3 separate regions of the Homo sapiens genome follow, and all the other regions are reported to be linked to region 1. The links are microRNA targets in miRTarBase. Many come from high-throughput screens and were not tested one by one. Region 1 holds a microRNA gene; each other region holds the end of a gene's coding sequence.

Evidence for each region. The annotated mature microRNA hsa-miR-183-3p reads GUGAAUUACCGAAGGGCCAUAA and lies in region 1 at 2,532-2,553, opposite strand. An mRNA with a match to its seed (bases 2 to 7 or 8) in the 3' UTR can be bound and repressed. Matches are read on the target gene's strand: a 7mer-m8 pairs with bases 2 to 8, a 7mer-A1 pairs with bases 2 to 7 and ends in A, and an 8mer does both.
Region 2: the mRNA of RIOX2 is a reported target of hsa-miR-183-3p. Seed matches in the 3' UTR shown: 7mer-A1 at 971-977 and 7mer-A1 at 3,234-3,240.
Region 3: miRTarBase lists CLN8 as a target of hsa-miR-183-3p. Seed matches in the 3' UTR shown: 7mer-A1 at 4,602-4,608.

Annotation. Positions count from the first base shown.
Region 1 is chr7:129,772,397-129,779,591 of GRCh38, forward strand. It overlaps MIR183 (microRNA 183), which reads right to left and starts at 2,618; the gene lies at 2,509-2,618. It overlaps MIR96 (microRNA 96), which reads right to left and starts at 2,373; the gene lies at 2,296-2,373. RefSeq lists enhancers at 837-1,698, 4,542-5,388 and a silencer at 7,087-7,195.
Region 2 is chr3:97,938,879-97,946,073 of GRCh38, reverse strand. RIOX2 (ribosomal oxygenase 2) reads left to right here. Exons shown (of 10, transcript NM_153182.4): 9 at 187-276; 10 at 732-4,256. The coding sequence ends at 890. CRYBG3 (crystallin beta-gamma domain containing 3) reads right to left here. Exons shown (of 22, transcript NM_153605.4): 20 at 4,768-4,926; 21 at 3,631-3,790; 22 at 1,090-2,848. The coding sequence ends at 2,760. Among named protein-coding and RNA genes, the nearest start is that of RIOX2, 30 kb to the left of the region's middle.
Region 3 is chr8:1,779,422-1,786,616 of GRCh38, reverse strand. CLN8 (CLN8 transmembrane ER and ERGIC protein) reads right to left here. Exons shown (of 3, transcript NM_018941.4): 3 at 47-6,367. The coding sequence ends at 6,050. Among named protein-coding and RNA genes, the nearest start is that of MIR3674, 18 kb to the left of the region's middle. RefSeq lists a silencer at 1,209-1,331 and an enhancer at 2,405-2,904.

The DNA.
Region 1 (7,195 bases):
GGACAGCGTTCCTGCCTGACACTGGACACCATTGGACAGATCATGGGCAGAACCTTTTGCCCATCTCACAGACCTTCTGGAAGCCACACAAGGGAGGATCCAGGACCTGTTCTGCAGGGTGGGGAGGTGAAGAGGGGCCCTCTCCTATCCTAAGTGCCCCCAGCCTGGGTGGTAGGAAATTGTGTCTTTAGGGAGGAGGGCCAGCTGTGGTGGCCCCCACTCTCTGGGACAGTCACTGTTGTGGGTGAACTCACCACCCAGGTCTGGCCCGGAACTAGGTAAATTAGGAGATCTAGAAACTAGCTTTGGCCTGAGGTCCTCCCCTGGAGCGCTGGAGCAGGGCCCCAGAGCAGCCGGGCCTGAAGCCTGGTGGAGGCACGCCCCCACACCAGTGCCTGCACTCGGGGCTCAGCAAAGGCGCCCACCTGGGCAGGTGTGAGGAGGTGGAGCCCAGCTGCAGACCACCCAGGGGCTGAGGGCAGCTTCTGTCATCCGGCCTTCCCCGCTAGGCAGGAAGGAGCAGAACCCTGGCCAGACACTCCAGAGGCTCCAGGGAAAAGCTCTAGAACCGGTCACTGCCAGGGGCCTTCCACCCCCCCTTGCTGGGTCTCTGTGCCCACCCCACCTCCAGGGCTCATTCTCACTCAGGCCGGGAAATCCCTTCTTTCCTATCCCATGGGACCTGCAGCAGGACGCCCTAAGGAAGCACCCGGGGCGGAGGACTGGAGCACAGAGACAGGGTGCGGCACAGGCCAGCCAGGTTCCGAGGGGCAGAGGGAGAGCTGGGGCCATCAGAAGAGAGACCTAGCTACAGGGACACCTCACCAGGGCAGAAGTCCCCTTCTATCCTGAAATAAACAAGCCCCTCCTTTTTTCTGCAGGGGCTTGGAGAGCTTCTGTAGAGAAACACGGGCACCACACCCCAGAGGGAATTTATTGGGGGCTCCTCGCGGTTTGGTGATAGCTAACTGACAAGAAAAAAAAGGCCCAACCCACCCAAGGCAGTCCCCAGGGCACCCAGGCAGGCAGCACTGGTCACCATGTTCCTGCTGTGCAGTCAACTGGACCCGTCATCCTCCAGCTGCCAGCTTCAACCACACACATCCCCCACCCGGGCACTCCCTGGCTCAGACACCTAAAATGACTCCCACTGATCTGGGCTAAGTCCACCAACCCTTGCCTGAGGCTCCCTGGGGAGAAGCAGCCCCATCAGGGGCTGGCCCAGTGACCTGGGGCATGATAGCTCCCAGCTGGTCCCAAGTCGGCCACTGGTCTCCTGCTTGATTGCTGACCACCAGATTTCACATGGGTCCAGCCTGGCTGGCCAGGCTCTCCCCAGCTTTGACAGACTAGGTCCAGGCCTCCCAGCCTCAGTCTCTGCCATCTGGGGCATCCTTGGGAGCCCAGGCCTGTAGATTCAGAGCTGAGACACCTCCAGGCCCTGGGTGCCTCCATGGAAGGTGTGGCTGGTGGCGGAAGAGCCACAGTGACCCAGCTCTACCACTCACCAACCTCTTCAGCCAAGCCTTTCCTCTCAAAGCCTCAGGTTCCCCATCTATGAGATAACTATTTTAAAAAATTACAAGCCCCACAGGGCTGAGGTGGGAACTGTTGGGATTATATATGTAATGTCACCTGACACCCAGATGGAGAGCATAGGCCAGTTAGTCATAGCCCAGATCCAGGGACCCAGGAAGCTACATTACCAGTGTGTGGTGTGTGAAGGGGAACATTGGCCTCTGCTCCAGAACCTTCTAGGGGCAGGCCTGAAAATGCCCTCCAACTCCGAGCCCCACTAAGTATCCTCCTCTTGGAGCTGTTCGGAGATGACCCACTCCACAGCAGGCTACAGCTCCAGAGACGGTAGCCCCCCTGGAAACACCCAGGCTGACCTCAAGGGCAGCCCACCTGCCTGGAGCTGCCCCCTTCACAACCTGCAGCAGAAAAGACCAGGCCCTGTGCTGCCAGCCAAGGTCTCACCCCAAGCGTGTGCTGGGAGCCTGGCTGGGCCTTTCCAACCCACGGCACCATTCAGGATGGCCCTACAGATGGTTTCAGACTCCCCCACCTCTGCCCTGGGCGGCCCCATCTGCTGGCCCAGCTCAGATTGCTGGGCTCCCAGCTCTACCGTGGCCCCAGGCAGTGTAAGGCGATCTGGCTGCCCACCAGCGCTGGGCCCTCACACAGCAGCTGAGCCAGATGGGCTGGGGAGGCGGTGAGGAGGCCTTGAGGAGGAGCAGGCTGGGGCCCTGACACAAGGATGCAGGGGAGGCGGACGCAGCTGCGGGTCCTGCTTTTCCCATATTGGCACTGCACATGATTGCTCAGAGCGGAGAGACACAAGCAAAAATGTGCTAGTGCCAAAATCGGCCAAGCAGATGGCACTGGTGCGGGCTCTCTGGGGACACACTGGACGAGGGGCCTTGCATCCCTGCACCCTTGGAAGCAGCCTGTTTCCGACGTCTAGGAGCACTCAAGGCAGAAGTGGGTAAGGTGCTCCGGAGGCCCTCGTGGATCTGTCTCTGCTCTGTTTATGGCCCTTCGGTAATTCACTGACTGAGACTGTTCACAGTGAATTCTACCAGTGCCATACACAGAACAGGAGTCACACTCTGCGGCCTGCCGACCCTGCGGAGAGACCAGCGGCCCACGATGCCCGTTCCCTGCTCCTAGCCTGCCCACTCCCTTGGGGGCCCCCCAGCAGGCCCTCAGCAGCGGCTGCTACGGTCTCTACCCCCCACCCCATCCCACCTCTTCACAAGATCCACATGCCCCATCAGCCCAAGATGACCTTCAAGGAGACAGGGACAGTGCGGGAGAGGAGCTGACCTTCTGGCCTTGCAGAGGAGAAGACCACACCAAGGTGTCTCCTATCTCCACCTGAAGGCCCACATCCCTCCACATCACCCAGACTGCGCCTCCAGGCTGGGGAGGGAGTGGGTCAGGACCATCCATCTCCTTGCCAGAGTAACTCTGGCTCGGAGAGGCAAGCAGCTGGCCAGAGCCTCCTCTCTACCCAACCTGCCACAGGGGCAGTGACCAGTGGGACATCCAAGATGCCTCTCGTAGCCTCTGAGCCCAGACACCAGCAGCCCAGGCTCCTAGGCACTTTGGTCTCCATTATCCTCCACCCCCCAGCCTGCCCTGTGGCAGAAACAGAGCCCCAGGAACAAACCGAATCTGCTGCTCACCCCCACTCCCATCCCAAACCAGACCAGATTGGGCCAGACTGTGAACCGCCCAGGCTGGGCATCTCTGCTGCCGGCCTAGGATCAAGGCAGGAAAAGGCCAGGAAAGGAGGGCAGAAGAGAAGTCCTGCAGCCACCCAGGTGGCTTGGAGGGAGCCGGAGGCACGGATGCACTCTAGCAAGGGAGTGGCTCCTGGCTGGCTCTGGAGTGACTGCGGAGGAAAGCGGAGGCTCAGGAGCGAGGGAGGGGCTGGGAAGGTTGCATCAGTGGTTGCCAGAGCAGCTGCCTAGAGAGAAGTTGCTGTGGAGGCCCTGCCTCTGGTGTCACAGGCCCTGGGGAAGGACGGGAAGAAGGGAGAGGGTGGGAGGGAGGGTCTCTGGGGAGCTGGCACCCAGGGCAGGCAAGCTGGGGCCTCCGCAGAGTGGCCACTAGAGTCTCAGCCTACTCCAGGTCAGCGGTGGCCCAGAAGGCAGGGTGGCTAGAAAATATCCTGGAAGGGTCAGAGCAGGTGCCCTGGCCCAGAAACTATGCAGACCTCTTGGCGATGTTACCCCCAGGAACTACCTCCCGTGGACCTCAGAGCTCCATCTGGGTACCTTGGCCAAAGCCATCCGCTCTCCCCTAGACACTGCTTAATGCTCCACCCTTCCTGCTCCCGAGGACTCTTTGTCCTGCTCCCACACACCCCCACTACAGGGCTCTGCCCTTCTAGCTGGTCTATCTCCCCAGAGGACAATCCAGCTTGATGAGGTGGTGATCTCAGGAAGTCACTCCTCAGCCTTCTGCCTCAGTTTCCCTTACTACAATTTTCTGAACTCTACTAAGGAAGAGAGACCAGACTTCCCAGCCTTGGGTGGGGAGGGGAAGGGGTGATGGCAGGGTGTTAGCAAAGAGTATGGGGTGGGTAGTTATGAACATTGCTTAGGGTGTAGCCATAAGCATCACCCAAGGAGCCTGTTGAAATGTAGATTCTTGAGCCTGCCTGGAAATCTGCATTTTAATAGCACCCTGACAGCTCAGCATGGGGTGGGGGTGGGGGTGGGAAGATCTATTTTGAGAAATCTTTCCCAAGAAGCCTCACCCTGGGATAATTAAACAGAATGCAGAATTCTTCTTTCTTCTGGCTGGGCGCAGTGGCTCACACCTGTAATCCCAGCGCACTTTGGGAGACGGGAGGATCGCCTGAGGTTAGAAGCTCGAGACCAGCCTGGTTAGCATGGTGAAACCCCCGTCTCTACTAAAAATACAAAAATTAGCCAGGCGTGGTAGCAGGCGCCCGAAGCTGAGGCAGGAGAATCGCTTGAACCCGGGAGGTGGAGGTTGCAGTGAGCAGAGATCGCACCACTGCACTCCAGCCTGGGCAACAACAGAGCGAGATTCTGTCTCAACAACAACAAAAAAAAAAAAAAAAAAAAAAAGAATTCTTCATTCTTCTTTTGGGGACAGCCAAGGATGGGGAGAGGCAGGTGTTAGGGAAGGGGAACACGCAGCACCTTGCAACCAAGGAGCCACAGAGGCCTTAGAGCTGGAGAACAGATGGAGCCAGGGATTCTGCTCTCCCCAGCCCAGGAAGGAATAAAAGGGACCCCAGGTAGAGGAGAGAGCCCTGTAACAAAGCAGCCAAACACGTACGCTCCTTCAAATTGTGGCATCTCTGTCGAGCTCCTTGGTCTGTTTTCCTCATCTTTGTAACTGACATAGGATGGAATACAGGGAGCAGCTCGCAAAGCCAAATCCCTCTCCACTTCCAGTTCTAGTCGGCTGGGCCAGGTTCCTCCCCTGCGCCTGCCTCACCCCTCCTAACCCAAATGCGACAGGAAGCCCAAGTGCCGCAGTGCCTGGGGGGTGCCACGCCCGCTGGGGCCTCTCCATCCTGGTGGAGGGAGGCTGGGGCCTGGGCCCTAGGGAAGCAAGGTCTCCCAGCTCTCTCGAAAAGCGGGTAAGAGGAGCTCTCCGACATCAGCAGCAGAATCCCCACTCGGAATCTCAAAAGGGAAAACAGAGGCCTATGGCTTGGCGCAGGTCAGGATAGCAGCCTCTTCTGCCCTCCCTGCAGGACACAGCCCTGACCTTGAGATCAAAGGCACAGAAATCCGCTTCTGGAGTGGGAAGATGAAGACAAGGTCTCCCACACCCGCTGGGCGTCAGCGCCTGGCAATGGAAGAGGACCAAAAGAGATGCAACTTGCAGGCCAGGCTGGGCAGCCAGGGACTCACAGGGTGTGTGGGGGTCCTACACATCCTAGGAGGTCTCCACAAAGCGCCCCCTCCCACCTTCGGTCGCTCTCAGCCCCACCCTCCTGAACTCTACTTGGGCCTTCTTAAAACTCGAGTCCCCTTTCCCCTAGGGGTGTCCCTTCCTGGGCACTGGTGCCCAATGCAAAGGGCAGGCCCCCAACCCCTTCCAGTGTTAGAGGTGAGTGTTGCAGGACTCTGGGCTATGGGTACTCCGGGGTCCTTAGACAGCACATAGCCTACCGCTCGACTCCTGGCTCTCCTCTCCACCTCTACACAACGAATCTGGAGTCCAGGGTCCCAGCCGCGCCACCCACAACCGGTCTGGTCCTGATCCCTCCAGTCTCTATCAAATGCCCCTGAGGTCCCAGGGGCTAGAGGCTGCTGGGGCCCTTGAACGGGCATGCCCTGGACGCTGCGCCTGTCATCCTGTGTCCCCATGAGGTGCTGGGAGAGGGGCCCAGAGCTCCTTTCCCCGAAGCCCAGGCCGCCACCGACCCATTAAATAAATACTCAGGTGTCTGGGGTGCGGAGCTCACTCCAAGAGCCACTGGGCCCCGGTAGGAGAAAAAGAATAAACGAAATCCTCACAAGTGAGGCCGGCATCCTAGAATTTTCTCTTCTTTGCGTAAGGCCGACTCCAGAGGTCCCGCTAACTCCCCCGCAGGAGCATGAAGGGGCGGCCTTGAGCGGTAAAGAAACGAGCAGTGGTGGAGGCTGCCGCTCCGAGCCCAGGTCCGAACCGAGAGCCGCGCGGGGAATGTGGGGGTCGAGGCTGAGAGCTGGGCTTGGGGCAGGTTCCTTTGCGTTCGCTCAGGCCACGATGAGGCCACTAGGACAGATTTCTCCGAAGGCTCGGCCTCGGATCAGAGATCCGCCGACTCGGTGCCCATCGGTCGGGCTCACTGGGTGACAGGTAGAGGGTGATGCGCACCCGTAGAGCTGAGTGACCCGGCCCGAGAATCCGCCACCTGGCTCGCAGGATTTTCGCCCTCAGGAGCTTTGCGAAGACGGGCGCAAACCTGGGAGGCGCCGCCGCACCTTGCCTGTGGGGGTGGGGAGGTCGATTACGGCACCGCCCGCCCTCGGCCCTAATCGCTCAGAGCCGGCCTCAGTGCCCCTGCCCCCGGCGGGTATTACTGTACACGGTGTCCGGGAGCCCGGGTTGGAAGAGCAAACGAATGGCTCAGCCTGGAGGACACCGTGGAATCGGGCGACCCCTGACCCCGGGTGACACCCTCACTGCCCATAGTCCTGGGATGCGCTGACCGGTGAGGCGCCAGAGGCAAGCCGTCCAGCCGCCGATCTTGGGGAAGGGCTGGGAACCTGGGTGCCACTAGCGCTATTAACAGGAATGGGGCAGTTGAGGGCGGGGAACGGTGTCTCATTCGCGTGCGCCGGGGTTCCCGGGATGAGTGGCCGCGAAGTGGAGGCACACGGGAGGTCTGAGAGCCGCTTTCCCCCAGAGACTGGGCGGGGCGGCTCCGGGCCACGGAAGCAGCCTCGAACCAGCCGCGCAGCCCTGACAAGACGCTGGAGGGGCCAGCTCCGGGGCCCCGGCGCTCTCCGCAGCCCCCTCCCAGCCTGGCGCTTCCGCCTGAGCCCACCAGGGCGGCGAAACGCAGCCCGACCCCAGCCAAACTCCTCGCGGGTAGGCACCTCGCAAGCACCGGCCGCACTCGGACCGCAGCCGCTCCCGCCCCCGCCCCCGCCCGGGAACAGCGCTGGGCGCTGGGCAGACGCCACTGGCGGACCCGGGACCCAGGCGCCCC
Region 2 (7,195 bases), not on the chromosome of region 1:
ATTGTGTGGATGCACACACCCGTCACTTTTTGCCAAAAGGATTCTTTACAGTATTCAATAAATTTCACTTGAGCACCAAGGCTTTTGAAATTTTTTTTGGTGTTGACCTATTGGAAAACCTTCCTAGTACTGACACCTTCAGTGTTGTGTTGTTGATGGCCTAATGCATTTATTTTTTCCCCAAAGGATGAAGCTCAAGAAAAGATGGTGTACATCTATCATTCCTTAAAGAATAGTAGAGAGACACACATGATGGGAAATGAGGAGGAAACAGAGGTTTGTTTCAACTGAAAACAAATGCCTATCCTGTGACTTGGGTGGTGGTTGGGAAGAATTGATTATTTTTGATTTACAGGTAATATGCTTTTTATGGCTGCACTGTGGACTTAACCATTTTGCACTACTCACAGAGCTCCTGCATGGGGATGATTAAGTCAGACATTTCTGTGATACATGCACACCAGTTTTAAGACATACTAGCTGGGACCTGTAGCCTTATAGGAATGGTATAATGTAAAACATTTCAAATTACTAATATCACTTACTACATAAATTAGGATGCCTTTTATATAGAAGTTGGCATCTTTTATGTTATCTAATTGTAGTGTGTCTAAAATACTCATGAGGGGTATCAAAAATAATGATGTATGGAGAATAAATTTACAGGAAAATGCTACTTCAATGACATAAGTAGTATACATATATTTTGACAAATAAATTTATCCTTTCAGTTTCATGGACTTCGCTTCCCTTTGTCACATTTGGATGCACTGAAGCAAATTTGGAATAGTCCAGCTATTTCTGTCAAGGACCTGAAACTTACTACAGATGAGGAAAAGGAAAGCCTGGTATTATCCCTCTGGACAGAATGTTTAATTCAAGTAGTCTAGTGCCTTTGCAGAATCAAATGCCTACTATTTTATATGCATATATTAAAAGAAAAGCAAAGACCTGAGCCGAGGAGAGGATGAATTCAAGTTTCCTTACCTGCGTATCTACTAACAAACATGAGACCTCCCTGTTACAGGTGGTCAGTTGGCCAAATGTACTAACGGGCACATGAAAGAAAGAACAGCAAATTACCAAGTGTCTCAGAAAATGACAAAACCATATTTTGACAAGTTTATTTAATCCAGTGTGGTAGAAAAGGCACAATTCCAATGTATCATTTAGAATTGAATGTCATTAACCTGGCTTTGTTCTTTGGAAGAAACAACTTCTTTAAAGAGCTTCTTTGGCTCTAGAAAAATTTCAAACAATTAAAATAAGAAAAAATTTTAAACTGGTTTTTTATAATGAAAATATACATACCTTTGTGTATAGACAAGCCCATGCCCATTAAAATAAAGTTATCCTGTAACATAAATTTTATTAAATAATACTTCCCCACAGATGAGAGGCACGCAACACCTATGGACAAAAGGGAGTTACAGAGGCTGCTTAAAAGATGGAGAAAAGCCTGAGATTGAAGGAGGAAAAAAACCCAGTATTTAAAGTCTATAAAAAATACTCAAAATAGTGGGTCTTCGAGTTTAAAATAGTCATTGTTATTTTACATTCTAAAGTGCATGTAGGTTGATATTTTTTAAAATATCATTGGAGAATTTAATCTTTCTTTATAAAAATAGAGCATTTTTCTGCTTTCTGGCAAAAGTTGGGGATAAAAGGAAAAAAAGTTGTCAAAATGTAATTTTCAGTCCAATTCACCAGGAAAACATGCTTGTGAATTGTGCAGTAAAAGGTGGTAATGACTACTGGAAGCTAAGTCAAAGGTGATTTCCTACCTGATTTTACTTACTTAAATAAAAGTTACTTACAATGGGAGTGAAAAACTGAGGTTTCTGTTATTTAGTAGAGAAATCAACTCCACGTTTACTTAAAGAGATGGTAAGGTCAAGGTTCAAATGCTACTGTGTTTTAATTTGGATATTTGAAATTTCTCTTGAGGCAAAAAAAAAAAAAAATTGATGCCTCTCCTTAAATCTAGGATGAAGTGTCAACATGGAGACAGGTAACCACTGTTATAGAGTCTTGTCACCTAAAGGGATGTCTTGGTTAACACGTAACAGTGCAAGTTTGGCCATAGGTTATTTATTTGTACTTTTTTAGTTTGAAGGACTGAGGAAACAATAGCTACAGAAAATACTTCTTGTGCCTTATTCCTAACAAAGCTGAGGTCCCTGCCTGGGGTTAGTTACAAGTATAAATACTTAACGAGGTGCGTTCATTATAAAAGCCTCAGTATAGAAACCTTAAAGTTTATCTAGGAAAGTTTAGTATATTTTCAGGTGTTGCTAAAAAATTACTCATCTGTTTGCAAAAGTATGACTTGACCTATAGAAATCTGTTTCTTTATGCTTTGTACTCATACAAGCATCTAGGTAGGATATTAATAAATAATACAGGATAATAGCATCACCAGTGTCCAATAACGGGCCATCAGGAACAGGATTCACGTTTGGTGGATATGAGAGAAAATAAACACTTCAGGAAACTTGCTCACCACAGCTGGAGATCAGGAATAGAACCTTTCCAAGATATCATAATATTTTCTTTATAGGAACACTGAGTAATGGCAAGAATATTTTGAGCTTTTCCATGGTTAAGAGCGATAGTCTCAGAGGCTGGAGAAAATGTTCATTCTGCTCAGTGATCCAGGAGTGTGAGGACAGTAGCTTCCTTTCCACGTCCACAAGACAATGACAGATGTGTTTCCTTCTTTGCTCTTTCTAGGGATCTTTCTAGGGATGTTGATTCTCTCACAATATTTCAATGTCCCATTTCTGTGTTTCTTCTCCCTCCAGGGGCTGATTTACAATTACATGAGTCTTGTCACAATAATTTCCTCCTAAAATAGAAATTCCAAAAGAAAAGATTATTTGTTCAGGCAGGTGCTTAGCAATTTCACAATTTTCACAAGCTTCTGTTCAGCTCACCATTTCGGTGGATGAATGTGTCATTTACAAAGAAGTCTGAAATGGGAAGCTGAGTTTGAACAGGCTTAGCCATTATTCACCTCAAATTGGACCTTATTATGACTCAAATTGAAATACTAAAAGGTATAATACATGATTGTATAAGTGGCGTGCCTTAATGTGATTCTTTAGAACAAAGTGCTCTTGAGAGAACTCTGGCTGAATGTCAGGTACTGTGTTTTTGTTTCTACACCAACAAAACTGTGACTAACCCAATTAAAGCAACAGCCATGAATAATATTGGCCCTGACCTTGCTGAATTCAAAAACAAGGTTAATTGATACCTACCATAAATTCTACCTGAGGGTTTTTAAGGACCATGGCAATTCCTGGCAAAAAGCTAGAGATGTTTCTAAGAAACAGATGACATTCATTTCATGGTTTATGGTGCTTGAAATTTAGAACTGTTCTGAGTTCACGTAGCAAATGAAAGTTTTACAACTGTACTAATGAACAAAAACCCTAAGCTTTGTTGTTTGGCTTTTTCTGCTAATTGTTTTGTTTGTAAAACTGCCTATCTTAATTTTCTTCAAGCATAATTTTAAATGACTTAACATTTCTCTTATACATAAGGATGTCCTTTACCCAAAATGAGGAGATTTGGAACTGAAACTAATATCCAGGGACACAACATTGGGTATCATCAAAGGCCCACCTTTAACATCAAGGACAAGTTGATCACTGAGATAAGAGCTGATAGTTCCATTTTTATTCAGTCTCCACTTCTGCCTGAATTGCCCATGTTCAGTCCATAGAGCTACTTTAGCTCCAGGTGTGTCCCGGCCACCAATCACATCAAGACATGTATCACTGGCCTAAAAGGGTTAAGAAATGATTAATTGGCAGTAGTATGTTTGCTAAAGTAAGTTGAATTAGGTCCCTTTTATCTTAGGTAAACAAGTCATAGACATGAAGTGTGTGTGTGTCTTATCTAAAAAAATACTATATAGTATAATTTCAGTAAGCCTTTTTTAATGTCTTCTTTACGGCTGTGGGTAGGAGATGGTACAGAAATAAACCAACTGAAATAGAGGTACTTGTTTTTAATAGGATGTCTACATCTGACAACAGATGTTCAATAAAGATTTGGTGAATTGGAATTAAATGTTAAATCCCTGTTTGCTTAAAACGTATTATGTTGAGCTTGGTTTTCTTATGAAAACATTGCATGATGGGCTAAAGATATCCAGACAATAATTACTTTTAAAAGTTTTTCATTTTTGAAGCATGAGAAAAAGTAGATAATCCATTGGTGATACAATAAAACACAGTTTGAATGTTTTTAAAGTAGTGTTCTATTCCCAATGCATTAAACATAACGGAAGGGTCATAGAAAAGAACCCTAAATTTTATTTTCTAAGCTTCTTCCAATAACAGCTTTCTTCTTCTACTGCTTCTTTGTATACTTTGAAAATGAAAGGTTTCAACATATTTAGAATCACAGAGATGGCTGATTTTATCTGGGCCATCAAGTAAGGAACATCTTACAAAAGCACATTGTCCAACTTAGATCTGGTGACTTATACCATTGGTTGTAAAAAATCACTTAGGTATATCCATAATATGTGATAACCTTTGTGTTTACTTAAAAATTGAAACTGGATTTTCTTGTTCAAAAAATTAAGTTAATTTTATATAAATGTTTTAGTAATATATGGCAGTATTTTTATAATCAACACCTGTTTCTAAGAAGTTGCATTGTTTTATCATGCCAGTTGATTTGACAGGATTCTAGTTTTCAAAATAAAAAACAGACCAGAAAGTGGCATACTGTATCAGTGGGATTGCTTACCTTGGATTTAAAGAGTCCTCGGCAGTAGTACCAGATCTGAGTATTCTTTCCACTATAGGGAGAAATGCACACAGATGTTGCCCTGGTGTCTGCTAGACTTCCAGTGACTGTCAGATATTCACCCTGGGCACGGTTCTTTATTCTGATGTACACTGCAGGCTATGACAGGAGAAACAGCCATTTAGAAATAAACTTTTGAATCTGGAAATGAATCCTTCCAGAGGAGGAAAGCTGGGAGGGAAAGTGAGAGGTAACTATCTTAGTTATATCAGTTTCACTCTTATTCCCTTTAGTAAATCTGCATAGATTAATATGGTAAATCCTTAGGCCGTGGAGCATAAAGCTTAAATTGTACAGTCTCTATTACACTTTGTGAAAAGTGCCCTTTTGAACAGCATGAAGTAAAAGTTTCTTTCACTAGAATTCCATGTGGTGAGGAGTGGGGTGGTAAAGAATTAGGGACTTGATGAGTTTCATTCAATAGTGTGTCCCAGCTGTGCTGAGGGAGGTAGGGGAGTTATTACCTACAAGGATTTTCTAAAAACTTCAGAAAGACATACTGTGGAGCTATGACTAAATGCCATAAGTTGGCCCTGGGAGGTCTTGAAAAACCCAGATAGCTGAGGGCACTAGTAGCTGTGATTATTTGTTTATATAAGACCTTTATTTCTTCAAAAGTAGAGACCATGTATGTTTAATGACTATACTTAGGTACTCAAAAATTGTGTAACAAAGGACTTCATCCCCTTGGCCTGGAAGTTTTAAGATACATACAAAAAGTTTTAAAATATTAAACCTGGGACTTGCCTCTAAGGAGAATAGCTAATATTTATTGAACACGTAGTATGTGTAAGCAGCATGCTAAATGCATTCTGTGCCATTATGTTATTTGTCAGAATAACCACAAAAACCTATTAAGAAAGTACAATTATACCCTAGTTTTACAAATAAGGTGAACACAGATGTAAAGAAGCCAGGTTCCTCTTAACCAGGATGCTCTCAGACCTATGTTGAAATGCACTAGTTGCTCTTAGGCACAGGGAATAAGAGACGAATTCCAAAGGTGGCAGTGTAGGACAATGAAAGAGCAGGGCACATAATGGAAGCACAACAGAAGCCATTATTTCAGCCCTATGACTTAGGCCTCCAGCCTTAATGTAATAAATGACACCCAACATGACACCCAACATCCCCACCTTTGGTTCTTCTCATTGCCATCCCAATTAGAACCCTGGCTGAGTAATAACAAATGGTCTCTTAAGAGAGCACTTTCATGCTAAGAAACATAAGTGCTTAGGTAAATGCAATAGGTCATATGGTAAGAGAACCAATGAACAGTCTACTGTTTTTGAAACTTGATAGATCAACGTGAAGCTAACTGAATTTTGGTAATTAAACCTTCCTAAGGAAATACACATTCTCAGCACTTAAGCCAATAGAAGGACAAATTATCTGGCCATTTAAACCAGGCGAACAAGCTCTCTACTTGGCAAAATGTTTTAAATGTTTCAAATCCCTACTTCCAACATTAACAATGCAACAGTAGTGTACTTAAATGTCTATAATTCAGCCGGATCTACTGCAATTATTAATTCTTGAGGCTTCAGTATATCTTTATTACATTTTCATTACCTTGTACATATAAGAAAACAGGCGTGACCTTCACAGATGACAGAGTTCCAATTACTTTAGGACCAGACATCACAGTTTTAATCAATTAACTCAGGCAAGGTACTAATTACCCTTATTACACATTTGTAGTCTGACTGCTCTGTAATTATACTTAAAAACACTGATATACATTATAAGTACCTTAGTGACTTCCTAATTCCCAGCCTCAAAGAGGATCACATTTTAATTAGTCCTGAATTTCTAAACAAGAATATGAACCAAAGCAGTACCAACAGCCTTACCACAAATTTAAATGTGACCCACAAACTACTATTTTAGAAACTCAGAATTCCTTTGTTGGATTTCAAAACTGTGACCTAAATAAACAAAAGGAAAAATAATCTATTAAAATATTATTTTGAAATTAAATGTTTAATCAGAATAGGAATCAGGTAGCTCCTAACGCACAGTGAAAGAAAATAGCATACTATTCTTGTTAAAAAAAACTTCCTTGTAAAAGTAGAGGTGGCTGTTCTATCCTTTACCAGACAATCTTGAACAATAGGCAGGGACATCCTTCTTCCCCAACAAGGAACCACCATTAAAAAATGAGGAACATATTTTCATTGTTGAACTTGGCTACTAAAGTCTCTAACAACAGAGGGTCAGCATTATTATGTAGTTAGTAAAAGCTAAACTGAATTCCTATCTCTACTTTGCTTTTTCTGATGGCTTTTCAGTGGGCTTACTCCCTGTTCCACATGATAGGAGTGGGGAATAAGCAAGATGTAAAGGTCATGAGATCGTCTACCACACA
Region 3 (7,195 bases), not on the chromosome of region 1:
CAGACATTTGGGGTTGAGTCATCGGAAGAAAGGAAATAGAGACGTCTGAATTTTTCACATCACTATATTTTAAACATGATTAGGCAAGTATATTTTTGTTACTAAAATAGTAAATACATTTTACTAAGAGTGAAGTACATTTTGTTACTAAAAAGGAGAAAAGTTATTCAAAATGATAAATATGGAATTAATAAGCTCTCGCATTAGAAGAAAATAGGAAGAAAGTTAGCAAAGAAAGGGGTGAACTGAAAGCGTCAACATGCATTCGTGAAAGTCTGGGTGCAGTTTATTCTGATTTACTCTGAGGTGAGCTGAAATCAGGACCGCAGGGTGGGCGATGCATCTGTGACAAGGCTGGACAGACTCATGGGTGCCTGCCCCCCCTCCTCCTGCAGCCCCTCCCCCAGGGCAGGCCTCCTGTCCTGGGAGCCAGGCTGCTGGCATGTCACACAAAATCACGTGTGCTGGGTTCTGCACAGAGCAAAGCCAGGTATGCAGCACAAGGCAGGCTGTCTGGCTCTCGAAGACCCCGATAGAGAGCCCCCGCAGGCTGGGCATATTCTGACCCCAGAGGTGGCAGCTTCCTGCAGTTCCCTGATCTGTCATTCCTGTCCTGTGACTTCCAGGGAGGGGCAGCTCCTGGGAGACCCACCAGCTGACACCTGGGACTCTGCCCTTCCTTCCTAGGCTGCTGTGTGAGTGGGGCTGGGGTCTGGAGACCCTGAGGGCTGCCCCAACACCAACACCCCTGCCTGTGCTCCTCTTGTGACATGGGTGCGTCCTGTCTTTACTGCCGAAGCCACAGCAGGGGTTTAGGGAGCCCGTGCATCTGACCAGTACCTGTCTAACCCCACGCCGCCTGTGCCACCGTAATCTGACCGGTACCTGTCTAACCCCACGCAGCCTGTGCCACCGTAATCTGACCGGTACCTGTCTAACCCCACGCCGCCTGTGTCACCGTAATCTGACCGGTACCTGTCTAACCCCACGCCGCCTGTGCCACCGTAATCTGACCGGTACCTGTCTAACCCCACGCCGCCTGTGCCACCGTAATCTGACCGGTACCTGTCTAACCCCACGCTGCCTGTGCCACCGTAATCTGACCGGTACCTGTCTAACCCCACGCCGCCTGTGCCACCGTAATCTGACCGGTACCTGTCTAACCCCACGCCGCCTGTGCCACCGTAATCTGACCGGTACCTGTCTAACCCCACGCCGCCTGTGCCACCGTAATCTGACCGGTACCTGTCTAACCCCACGCCGCCTGTGCCACCGTAATCTGACCGGTACCTGTCTAACCGCACGCCGCCTGTGTCACCGTAGTCTGACCGGTACCTGTCTAACCCCACGCCGCCTGTGTCACCGTAGGACAGAGCACAAAGGAGCACCCAGGATGCACACCTGACACACTTCGCGGCCGAGCCGCAAGCCTGAGGAGCGGGAGACCCTCGCGGTTCAGCGGCGTGAGGGCAGAGCGACGGAGCCCCTCCGCTTCTGTCTGCGTGAGCACATTCGCATAGAACAAGAGTTCTGACCTGGTCAAACACTTGACACGCACATAATGGAGGAAACTTTTGGCATGCTATCAAATGCTTTCTCACATGCACACAACATCTCCTCCCCAGCATGAAGGAAAGGCAGCTGACCCTGGCCGACCCCACCCCAGGCTGGCCCCCACCAGAGGCCCGAGCGTTTCCCCTTCTGGCCACACGTTTCCAGTGGCCACCGTTCTCTACTGAGGACATCACCTCCAGCCGCTGGTCTTGCCAGGCAGCCTGTGCGAGGGTGAAACTGGCTGCCCAGCCTCCCAGCCCTGCCCTTACCGTGGTAAATTCCCCCCTCAGCAGGTGTCCCCATATCAGCCCTTGGGTCTGTCCCCTGCAGGGCCCTGCCTGGCAGCCCTGGGTACTACTGGTTCATCCACTCCCTACTGCCAAGCAGCCATCCTGTGCCAGGGACATGGGGCTTAGAATCAATCAGAGAATAAAACAGATGCAACCCTGCCCGTGTGGAGCTCACAAAATTCGGACATGGGAAGAGAACCACATTCACCGGGTGCTGATGCTGCAGTGTGACCGTGTCCCCTCCAGAATTCACATGACATTGTAATTGTCATTGCGGTGGTATTAAGAGGTGGGGCCCCCTACTCTTGCAAATGGCTTAATGCCTCATAAAAAGGCAGCGGAGAACTAGCTGAGGCCTGTTGACCTTCCATCCCCTCCACCACGTGAGGATGCAGTGTTCCCAGCAGAAACTAATCAGCCCACACCTTTATCTTGGACTTCCAGCCTCCAGAACTGTGAGAAATGATGTCCGTTCTTTTTTTTTTTTTGAGATGGAGTCTCACTGTGTCACCCAGGCTGGAGTGCAATGGCGTGATCTCGGCTCACTGCAATCTCTGCCTCCCAGGTTCAAGCAATTCTTCTACCTTAGCCTCCCAAGTAGCTGGGACCACAGGCATGCACCACCACCCCCAGCTAGTTTTGTTTTTTTAGTAGAGATGGGGTTTCACCATGTTGGCCAGGCTGGTTTCAAACTCCTGACCTCAAATGATCCACCCGCCTCGGCCTCCCAAAGTGCTGGGATTACAGGCGTGAGTCACCGTGCCTGGCCTGAATGTCTGTTCTTTATAAACTACCCAGTCTTAGGTGTTTTGTCACAGCGGCCCATACTGCCTGAACCACGACTTTCTGCGCTAAATGCCGTGTTGAAGAGCCCAGCTCTGGCGCCGGAGGCTGCGCCCAAGGCAGGCACGGCTGTTCACGAGTTGCGTCACCTTGGGCACGTCATCACCTCTCTGAGCCCCGAAGCTCCTCGACAGAAGTGGAATCAACAGTGCCCATTTCATTCAAGTTGTCCGGGCGAAGAAAATGGAAAATCATGTCCCTTAAGCGCAATACCTGGTAAAAAATCTCACACTGAACTGCGGCCATGACAACTCCAGCATCACCCAAGGAGCCTGGACACCGAGAAGGGCAGAAGCCTGTGCGGCCCAGCCCCCGCAGCGCGGCGAGGAGGCTGCACCAACCCTTGGTCTTCAGTCACTCAACCTCCCTGGCCCATTCTGTTTCCCAACTTAAGAAACAAAACAAAACATAGGTATAGAGAAGGATTTCACTATCGAAAGAGAAAGCGCACTGACAAGTGATCACACTGAAGCCAAGCTGGAGAGCCACATCCTGGCTAAACGCAGGGCCATTTTCTATCCGGGTCACCTGCCATCAGGTGGAGTTAAGGCCGATATTGCCCAATCGTCCTAGTTTTCAAGCAGTTCCAGAATTCCTGTTATGTGAACTCACCTCGTTTAACACTTGCTGTAACTCTCAATAGAGGATGTGAAGCACGCAGCACACACGTGCAGCTGAATGCTGGCCAATGTGGGCCGCTGAGTGGGCCGGGCCCAGGCTCACACCAACCTGGCACCAAGAAGTCAGAGCTCATGAATGTCGCTTGTACCATGCTCCACTATAGCTACATCCCCTCACACTGCCGGTCAGGGAGACTGAGGCCAGTGAGGACCATGGGAAAGTGCTGTGCCATCTGGAAGGTGTACGCATCATTAACATTTCACGAAGCCTTTTCCACCCCTAAACCCCCAACTTCAGGCTCTGCACTGAGGGGTCCCCGGACCAATGTGTGGGTGACACTGGACGGAGCGGGTGAGCCTGTGCTTCTCTACAGCACCTCCATCTCTATGCATCCACACACGCGTATGAAGATACAGGAGGTAAAGTGTGGACCCCTGGGAAGGTCAAAGTCCTAGTGGAGGTGAGATAAAAATTAGGCTGTCCACTTCCAACTCCAAATCGAATTCTGAACACATGATGAATTTATCATTATATTTTCTATCTCCAAGATAAAGCATTCACAGCAATATGAATAGGTTAGTTTATTTTGAGAGAGAGGAAGACATCATTTGGGTTCTGTAAACATCAGTCACTTTATTATGCCTCTGTCTGGCTGAAAAACACCAGCTCCTGCTGACTCCACAAGGGCACGGCTGCAGAGAGTGCTGCCTGCCAGGTGTGAGGTTTCCAGTTAAAAGTTTCAGCAGGGACACCATTTGCTGGATGTGTTTAAGATTAAAATTGCTTCGTAAAATGTGATAAATAGGTTACTATACACCTTGGTCAATATAGTTAAAGCACCAGCAATCAAAATACACCGCTCCGGGCCGGGTGAAGTGGCTCACGCCCGTAATCCCAGAACTTTGGGAGGCCGAGGTGGGCAGATCACTTTTAGTCAGGAGTCAGAGACCAGCCTGGCCAACATGGTGAAACCCTGTCTCTACTAAAAATACAAAAAATCAGCCAGGCATGGTAGAGGTACCTGTAATCCCAGCTACTTGAAAGGGTGAGGCAGGAGAATCCCTGGAACCCGGGAGGTGGAGGTTGCAGTGAGCCGAGATCACACCACTGGACTCCAGCCTGGGAGCCAAAGCCAGGCTCCGTCTCAAAAAAACGAAAACAAAAACTAAACAAAAACAAAACACTGTTCCGAGAGTTCCATAAAACATAAGGAACGTAAGTCACACATGATTCTCACGAGCAGCCGACGTTTTCCACGTACATTTCAAAGGTGCTTGTGATAAAAAATAAACTTTGAATTTTAATTGCACGTTTATATCAAAACACTCACACACACACACACACACACACACACAATTCTGTATGTCTGTTAACAACATTGCTAAATTGCTGTGTAACTTCTACCTGGGTATAAAACAGTAGAACAATGTACCTTGGGACTCATCATCAGGCAGCTCATTGCCAGGGGCTGCTGCAGGACCACTCTAGGGACCCCAGGACCCTGCAGTCGAGCATCTCTGAGGGGTCCAGGTCCACCCTACAGCTCAGGGAGAAAATGACATCACTACTTGTCTTGAAATCTACAGAGGAACACCAACCACAGAATTAGGGTCTAGATTGGGTGCCTGTAGGTAACTCAGTCAATTAAAAACAGCTCTGAAACCCAGACAACCTGATTATGAAATCCTTACCTTATTTTGTCAAATGAGCAACACAGTATGAATAATAACTTCTCATTTTAAAACAGGTACCATGATTTAAAAAAAAAAAAAACTTGCAAGATTTCATCTTTACCAGCCCACGCTCTGGTTGGTGGGGGTTAAACTCCAAGGCGTCTCTGCTGCTACAGGAGTCACTACCCCTCAGCGTTGTCTTTGTACCACTTGCCACCAGATGGCACTGCCGTACACTTCGGTCTAGAATTTTTTTTTTTTTTTTTTTTTGAGAGAGAGTCTTGCTCTGTCACCCAGGCTGGAGTGCTGGAGTGCAGTGGTGCGATCTCAGCTCACTGCAACCTCCGCCTCCCGGGTTCAGGCAATTCTCCTGCCTTGGCCTCCCAAATAGCTGGGATTACAGGTGTGTGCCACGACACCCGGCTAATTTTTGTAATTTTAGTAGAGATGGGGTTTCACCATCTTGACCAGGCTGGTCTCGAACTCCTGGCCTCAAGTGATCCACCTGCCTCGGCCTCCCAACGTGCTGGGATTACGTCGGGTGTGAGCCACCCCACCCAGCTTAGAATTTCATACGCTGGGAAGCTTTAATAAGGAACAAATCATGTTATTTTCTATCTTAGCCCAATTCTCTCCAACTGAAAAGAATGTGACTTCTGAATAAGACACACGGCATATGAGTGTGCAGCTGGAAAGAGTCAACGCTGACCCACCCGCCCTGTGGGAGGCACTTCACTATGAAGCCATTTCCAGCATTCAAAGCCACCCCACTCCTCAACAGGTGTGACGCCCCGATGCCTGGACACCATGGACTCCTCTCCTAGATGCTTGACACGGTCCGGCGCGGCTAAACTGACAGAGCCTGCCAGACAGTCATAAAATTATAATTTCTTAAAAATACTTTGTAGCTACTTCAAAATTAATACTAATGCGAAAGAAAGTTAGTATTTCCCTTAGAAGTAAACACAAAACATTCACTGCCTCATTAATTCAAAAGCCATCATTCGCGGGGCTTCCCAGAATCGGTGTGCCAGCTCTGCTGCCGCCCCGGAGCCCCGGCTGGAGCAGCTATGGCCTCTTCTTCCGCAGCAGCTGCCCGTTGCCTTCTGGCCTGCTCTTGGCTTCTGGCTGTGCGAAGTTCCAGTCCACCGGATTGAGAAGCTGCTGAGTCTTCTTATGGGTCCAATATGGATTAATGATTAGCGTAAGCAGAGCCAGTCCGACAAGGAACAGTGTCAAATGAGGCAGATACAGGCTGCTGACCAGGCCGTCCCAGTGCCAGAAACACACCCACCACATGTGGTAGGTTAGAACCATGCGGCAGTGAAACATGTGAATCATCAGCCACTGGTTGAGCTTCCAAAACAGAGACTCGGACCAGCCCGCCTGCATGGAGAGAAGACAAATGCACAAGTCAATGCGAAACTGCCAAAATTCATTCTTCACATCACAAAAAGGTATTTGCTACCTTACTTACCAAACAAAACAAATTCATTTCAAAGCAAAAGAATTTCCTCCCCAGGGCTCTGCTCTCATTGGGACTTCATTCTGAAAGGAGGCCACCAGCTCTGTGGGCGCACCTGGGCCAGCAGGGCTGACCCTTGCCCGCTCATGCTGTTTTCCTGCTCCTCTTGCTCTTTGGCTTCTGCTCCCTAAAGCTATGATAAATTCAACCTTTCTTTCAGTATCCCTTCAATCTTTGTTTTATCTTGAATTTTCTCATATTAAGTAAATAAACAATACTTATTTGGCAAAACCAGACACAGGTATATCAAGCTCCCATACCTAGACCCTGGGAAGTGATGAGGTCATGGGGGTAAGGCCCCATGATGAGATTAGTGTCATAAGAAGAGAAAGAGACCAGAGCCTTCCCCTCCTCCATGCTAGGACACAGCCAGAAGGTGGCCATGTAAACCAGGAAGTGGGTCTTCACCAGACATGAATCTGCTGGTGCCTTGATCTCAGACTTGCAGCCTCCAAAACTGTGAGAAAGGAATTTCTGCTATTCCAGCTGCCTAGTCTATGGCAGTCTGCTGTGGCAGCCTGAGCTGACTAATACAGTATACCTCCCCGGCAAAATATTCTAACTTGGGCCAGGCACGGTGGCTCACGCCTATAATCCCAGCACTTTGGGAGGCCGAAGTGGGTAGATCACTTGAAGTCAGAAGTTTGAGACCAGCCTGGCCAACATGGCGAAGCCCCATTTCTAATAAA